Homo sapiens: one gene and its partner. The protein of the gene in region 1 purifies or fractionates together with the protein of each later gene. This does not show direct contact. Each region holds a gene or a part of one and is shown on either strand. Other genes may lie near its edges.

The links. Proteins that work in one complex are often made in the same cells at the same time.
Region 2: the proteins of CAST (region 1) and NUDC fractionate together in Homo sapiens (co-fractionation; 2 studies listed by BioGRID). This does not show direct contact.

What each region holds. Positions count from the first base shown.
Region 1 is NC_000005.10:96,770,242-96,773,994, reverse strand, and holds part of CAST (calpastatin), read right to left. Parts: intron 3,465-3,753; coding exon 3,393-3,464; intron 2,352-3,392; coding exon 2,316-2,351; 3' UTR 2,293-2,315; intron 1,356-2,292; 3' UTR 1-1,355.
Region 2 is NC_000001.11:26,924,675-26,928,427, forward strand, and holds part of NUDC (nuclear migration protein nudC), read left to right. Parts: intron 1-3,753. UniProt on the Homo sapiens protein: Plays a role in neurogenesis and neuronal migration. Necessary for correct formation of mitotic spindles and chromosome separation during mitosis. Necessary for cytokinesis and cell proliferation.

The sequences.
Region 1 (3,753 bases):
GGTATGTGCATGACTTTCAGAGAGTATTTGGGGGGGAGGTTAACAAGATGTGGTGCCATTTATAAGCAGTGTTATTGTTTTTGCTTGCCCCGCTGCCACAAGTCAGCTAAGTCATAACAAAAGCTTCAAACTGATGCTAAGGAAGGCCATGCCCTTTGGAAACAATAAATTCCCAATCTGTTTTATGTTATGTACCTGACATCTTTTCCTGCATTCTCTACCAGGAAATAAAGATGAAATTAAATATCAAAATTCTAATCGATGATATCAGTGCAATGTTCAGGAACTATTCATTAAGATATTAGAAAACCATTCAAAGTGGTAGGACATCAGAGCCTACTTCTTACATTGCTGTGGGAGAAATGCAGGTTTCAAATTTAATATATATATATAATTTTTTTAAAAGCAGAAGTTTCTTTTTATATTTGGTAAACTTAAGTTCCATAAAGCCAGACGCTATACAGTGCAAAGGCTAATGTGGCAATAGCTCTAAAGACACAGTTGCTGCTCAGGTTTTATGTATAGATAATAGAAAGCACAGTTTACTAACACAGTAAACCAACAGAGTTCAAGTCAGATGAGTACCCTAAGAATTAATTAGATTTTATTTCTTATGCTCGAAATTTGCTACACAAGGACTTATCTAACCTTTATTTTGCTCTGTTGCTGACTTGATTCAAGTCTCAGTGTGTTCTGTGCTGACTGTAAGATGCAGAAGTCCTCACACCTGGCAAAGAAGAGTTCAAACTGAAAAGGGGTTTGGTGCTTCCTGGTTTGTCCAGGTTACCTGTTATTAATTTATTATTAGCAGCCCAAGAGGAGATATGTGCCCAATGTACAATATCTTATGTTTGACTTATAAACATTATCCCAAAGCAACATCAAATACAGTTCAAAAGCCCAAGAGGAAAGGGGGTAATAAGAAATCAGAACACTGAAGAATGTTTAAAACATTGTTTTCTAAACACTAACAAAAAAAATTAAGGGCAAACTGAAAATACAAATGAGATTTACAGGCACTGTGTGTAGAATGTGCAAAAATTCACTTAGCTTTTCTTTTGTTTTTTTGGTGTTGCTTTAAGAAACTTTATCAAATATATTTCTTACAAATATAAAGCTTTCTCTCCCAATTGAAGGCAATTAAAAAAATTCAAAGTTTATCAATACTCAGTACACAGGTGAACCAGTCAAATTCATTTTCTTTCTGGAAAAGAATAACAAACCAATATTTAGGATGTTCAGAGACTCAACAAAAACCATTCTAGAAATCACCCAGAACAATTGTTTTCTGTTGCCAAAGCCTTTTGTTCTTCAAAAGTCACCATCCACCAGCTGAAGATTTTACATGCAGATACCTTAAAAATTTCAAATAAAAAATGCAGTGAATCATTTAATATGTAATTTTCTTGTTACAGACATAGTAAATATACCACTTAGCAAAAGCATTGTATAACAGACAGAAGGAATTTCCTATAAGTAAACATGAAAGTGGATTAATAGAATTTTTTTTAATTTTGGGAAAAATGTTAGAGCAGTTCTACCTAATATAGCTCCTTTTTTCCTAGGAAATAAACATGGATCATGGTGAGAGAGCTGAACCCGATTTAACCTATACTTTGATTTCTTTTAGGCTTTGGTCAGTAAGTGCTTGTATGCTTTTAAGGCTTACATTAAGCCCTCTCCTTTCTGAAGATTAAGATAAGGGCCCAGTTCTGAAGATCTCAGAAATCCCTTCAATCTGTCCAGTTTCTTCAGCAATTATAAATTAGAATCAAACACAGTACTTTACTTTCCAAAATAATGACAAATAAAAATGGCCAATCTTTTCCTTTGCCCTTGTTCCCAAAACCCTGTAATTTCCACCAGACTCTAAAGGGTACTTCTCCCCACCCCACCATGTATTGGTATTCTGGGGAATGCCAATGTCTTCAGGACATTTCGCTAAGTTGTAACATGCTAATTTTGCTTTGCCACAATAACCTGCAGTAATGAGCATTTGGATTTCAAAGATTCAACTAGCCTCAGATGGTCATTCTAAGTGCCTGGCCTAATATTTTTAAAAGCTTTTAATTATAAGATTAAGGTTTTTAAACATTTCAATAGCAAACTCATCCCATTTAGTGCTTTCAGAGAATGACCAATTACTCTGTAGATCTTGCAGTATGCATTTCATGCCAATACTGTAAAGTGAGCATGAATTACTCAAGAGGTGGACTTCACTTCTCTCATCTATAACACATAAATTGGCAGAAGATACAGTTGTCTTCATTTACAAATAAACACCCAACTTACCAGATACCTTAACTTGTATTTCTTTAGTCATCTTTTGGCTTGGAAGTTTCCTCTGTTGTCTAAAAGGGAAAGCAAAACCATCCGTGAGCTTTCTTTTCTGTATTAAGTATGAGGAGATGGCCTTCTCAGAATTAGGGGACAAAAGATGGCAGTCAGTGGGGAAAAATAAGATGGTCCTTTCAGTTTCTCTTCTTCATCTGGCCACAATATTGTGAGTTCTTCCTCCTCAAGCTTATAAGCTAAAAATAACCTTAAGTGATCCTGATCCTAAATGTATCACTCTCAGCTTTATTTTTTTAAGGCTAGGGTAGGTTATAAAATATGCATAGGTGTTCTTAAATGGCAATGTTTCATTCTGTGGTGATCCTTCCTTTCCTGTACATAGGGTCATGGCTGTCCAGTAAATCCACTCATCATAAAGGGTTATTATGCTTTCTATTATTTGTTAAAGGGCTGATTAAGTACTTCGTATAACTGAAATTAAATAATAGGCAAATAAGTATTTAAACTGAGATATAATGGCATAACTGCCAATTATCAATGCTGTTTCCTATATCCCTTAAGGGAATCTACTACAGGAAGATTTTAATATATTGTTTTAAAAGCTTTGGTGTAACTGGACTATTGTCTTTAAAGCTACACCTTTAACTCCTCCTTATAGCCAGGGGATCATAGTAATAATCATTTAAATCATATGTTCTTGGAATTGGAAGGGACCTAGAAGTTGTCTAATCCAATTTTCATTTCTCATCACAGCTTGAGTAATTTTAATAATAGGAAGTTTCCAACTTCCATGTTCTAAAATCTATATAAACCACATACTATGGTGGTATTTTAATTAGGGCAAGAAAGACAGGCAAAACACAGGCAAATTGGGTTGTGTCAAGAACATTCATTTAGGATTTTAAAGCACCAGTTACTTAAAAATATATGTATTTATACAAATTCAATTACTTTACCAAGCGATGCTATGGGATAGATAGTACTTTAAGAAATTTTATTCTAAATAGATTCCAGTAGGAAACTAAATGACTGAAATGATAAACCCTACTCTGTGTAACTGCTAAACTAATTTGTAGTATATTTACTGCTCCATTTACCTTTGCTGAATCCTTCGCTTTACCTCCATTCTTAGGTGCTTTGGAGCTGGAAGCAGCCTTCTTGCACTTATCCTAAAGCAAAGGAAATGTAATGAGGCTATGGCTATCACCAATCCATCTAGCAATTAACTAGGCTGCAGTTAAATTAATCCAGACCATTCTGAGATCTCCAATTTAATTAAATAATGGAAGACTTTGGGTGTTTTTTCATGATTTTTTTTGAACAACGGTGTCAGAGAATTGTTTAAAGCAGGAGGGAAAAAGGATAGAAATAAGGAGGGAAATGTGGGTGACATTGATGCTCTAATTCCCGTGGTGCCTGACTCACCCAGACCTTATTTTGCTAATCAAAACAGAGCTT
Region 2 (3,753 bases), on another chromosome or scaffold:
TCCTGAGTAAGTGGGATTACAGGCGCCCGCCACCACACCTGGCTAATTTTTGTATTTTGATAGAGACGAGGTTTCATCATATTGGCCAGGCTGGTCTCGAACTCCTGACCTCATGATCCACCCGCCTCGGCCTCCCAAAGTGCTGGGATTACAGGTATAAGCCACTGTGCCTGGCCAGGAGGTTTTATTTTTACTTTTATTTATTTTATTTTATTTTATTTTTTGAAATGGAGTCTCATTCTGTTGCGCAGGCTGGAGTGCAGTGGCATAATCTAGGCTCACTGCAACCTCCGCCTCCTGGGTTTAAGTGATTCTTGTGCCTCAGCCTCCCAAGTAGCTGGGATTACAGGCAGGCGCCACCATGCCTGGCTAATTTTTGTATTTTTAGTAGAGATGAGGTTTCACCATGTTGGCCAGGCTGGTCTCGAACCCCTGACCTCAAGTGATCCACCCACCTCGGCCTCCTAAAGCGCTGGGAGTACAGGTGTGAGCCACTGCACCCGGCCTGAGGAGGTTTTAACTAATAACCTAGGAGATGAGACTGGGCAAATATTAGAAACTGATGCTTAGAAATAAATTTAGAAGGCCGGGCGCGGTGGCTCACGCCTGTAATCCCAGCACTTTGGGAGGCCGAGGCTGGCGGATCACGAGGTCAGGAGATCGAGACCATGCTGGCTAACACGGTGAAACCCCGTCTCTACTAAAAACACAAAAAATTAGCCAGGCGAGGTGGCGGGCGCCTGTAGTCCCGGCTACTCTGGAGGCTGAGGCAGGAGAATGGCGTGAACCCCGGGGGGCGGAGCTTGCAGTGAGCCGAGATCGCGCCATTGCACTCCAGCCTGGGCAACAGTGAGACTCCGTCTCAAAAAAAAAAAAAAAAAAAAAAGAAATAAATTTAGAAATACTCAGAGGCATGTCTTCCCAGATGCTGTGACTCAGAGTTTAAGGATTTCTGTTTTGTAGTATTGATTCTGAGACCTTGAACTTCTTTCTGATTCCTTAAAGTTGTAATTATACTTTTGAAAATTGTTATATCATGAGGAATTTTTTTTTTTTTTTTTTTTTGAGACAGAGTTTCACTCTGTTGCCCAGGCTGCAGTGCAATGGCACGATCTCAGCTCACCACAACCTCCGCCTTGCGAGTTCAAGCAATTCTCCTGCCTCAGCCTCCTGAGTAGCTGGGATTACAGGCATGCACCACCACGCCTGGATAATATTTGTATTTTTAGTAGAGATGGGGTTTCACCATGTTGGCCAGGCTGGTCTTGAACTCCCAACCTCAGGTGATCTGCCTGCCTTGGCCTCCCGAAGTGCTGGGATTACAGGTGTGAGCCACCATGCCCAGCCTTTTTTTTTTTTGAGACGGAGTCCCGCTCTTTTTATCCAGGCTGGAGTGCAATGGTGCGATCTTGGCTCACTGCAATGTCTGCCTCTTGGGTTCAAGCAATTATTGTGCTCAGCCTCCTGAGTAGCTGAGATTACAGGCGTGAGCCACCACGCCCGGCGCCATTATCTTTATAATAGACATAAACAAGAGACATAATAAGAAGGAGACGTAGACGTTCTTTGCAAACCGTTTTCTGTGGCTTCAGGATTCTAACAAGTTGGTAAACTCTTTAATGTGTCCTGAATGTCTGAGGCCACTCTGTCATAGACACATTACCTAAGAGTAGGAGTCCCAGGTTCTTGGTCTAGCTTTGTCACCTAGTCGAGTTCCCAGCAATGCTCTGGTTCTTTCCATCTTTACATCTGTAAAATGGGAGAAAGTAGACCCCTTCTAGCTCAGATATTTTTTCTGTATTGTCACTAACACCTCTGGCCTTTCTGTGGGTCAGACTACCTGTAAAACCTCATGCCGCAAACTTACAAAAAAATACAAAAGCACTTTTAGTTTTTATAGCTTTTGGGACTAGTCATTTATTTTTTCTTTCTTTTTTTTTTTGACACGGAGTTTCATGCTTGTTGCCCAGTCTGGAGTGCAATGGCACGATCTCAGCCCACTGCAACTTCTGCCTCCCAGGTTGTAAGTGATTCTCCTGCCTCAGCCTCCTAAGTAGGTGGGATTACAGGCATGCACCACCATGCCTGGCTAATTTTGTATTTTTAGTAGAGACAGGTTTCACCATGTTGGTTAGGCTGTTCTCAAACTCCTGACCTCAGGTGATCCCCCAGCCTCAGCCTCCCAAAGTGCTGGGATTACAGGCGTGAGCCACTGCACCCGGCCTACTTTTTTCAATGAATGTTTATTGAACACTTAACACTTTGGATTATGTTAGGTGCTATATCAAACCTTTTGGGATTGCAGAGGTGAATACAGATTTGTTCTTTGTTTTCATGGATCTCACAGTGTAGCCAAAATAAAAAAAACAAGCAGTGAAAAAGTAGTGGGTGTTGGGGCAGAATCCCTGGGAACATAAAACTAACCTAGGTTGGGGGCTCAGAGAAGACTTTGTGAGGAAGTGACGCTTCAGATATGAAGGATGAATAGCTGTAAGAAGGGAGAGAGATGAACCGTGTGTGTGTGTGTCAGGGTCTTGCTCTGTTGTCCCAGCTGGAGCACAGTGGCTGTAAGAAGGGAGAGAGATGAACCGTGTGTGTGTGTGTGTGTGTGTGTGTGTGTGTGTGTGTGTCAGGGTCTTGCTCTGTTGTCCCAGCTGGAGCACAGTGGCGTGATCCAGCCGCCTTAGCCTCCCAAAGTGCTGGGACTACCTAATTTTTCTTTTTCTTTTTTTTTTTTTTTTGAGACGGAGTCTTGCTCTATGACCTAGGCAGGAGAGCAGTGGAGCGATCTCAGCTCACTGCAATCCCCGCCTCCCAGGTTCAAGCGATTCTTCTGCCTCAGCCTCCTGAGTAGCTGGGATTACAGGCGCCCGCCCCTATGCCTGGCTAATTTTCGTATTTTTAGTAGAGCCGGGGTTTCACCATGTTGGTCAGGTTGGTCTCGAACTCCTGAGCTCGTGATCTGCCCGCTTCGGCCCCTCAAAGTGCTGGGATTACAGTCATGAGCCACTGCGCCCAGCCCCTAATTTTTCTTAACTGTAAGAGGGAGCAGTCCTTACCTTACAAGGATGTTACGAGGATTTAAAAAAAGGCAAAGACCACAATCCACTTCAGAATCCCTTGGGGCCACATGTGTTTTGGTATTTAAAATTATTTGGATTTCAGAAAGGCAATACAGTGCATATAATGTGCATTACATACAATAATCTAATCGCAGGCCAGGAGCTGCATCCTGCAACAAAACACATTAATATTTCTGCAGAAATATATATATCAATATACATACCAAGTAGAAGAAATGAAGACTGTAAATACCTCATGCCACGAACTTACAAAAAAATACAAAAGCACTTTTAGTTTTTATAGCTTTTGGGGCTAGGAATTGTAGACTTGAATACAGCCATAGTGATCTAATCAATATGGTATTGATAGAAGAAGAGAAAAATGGACCAGTGAAGCAGAATAGAGAATCCTGAAATAAAGTCTGGCATTTATGAGGATTTAATGTGTCTATTGTGGTAATTCAGTTCAGTAGGCAAAGCATGATTTAATAAGTCATGCTGCTACATGAATTTTTTTTGGTTAAAAAAACAAAATTTGCCATCTGTCATACTCTATAAAAATACCAATAATAAAAATCCTGTAAGGAAAACTAGGAAACTATAGTCTTATGTGGGGGAGACTTTTCAGCATTAGAAAACTGGAAGCTATAAAAGAAGAGATAGCTGTTTGCCTTTTCAGATGCTGAAACTT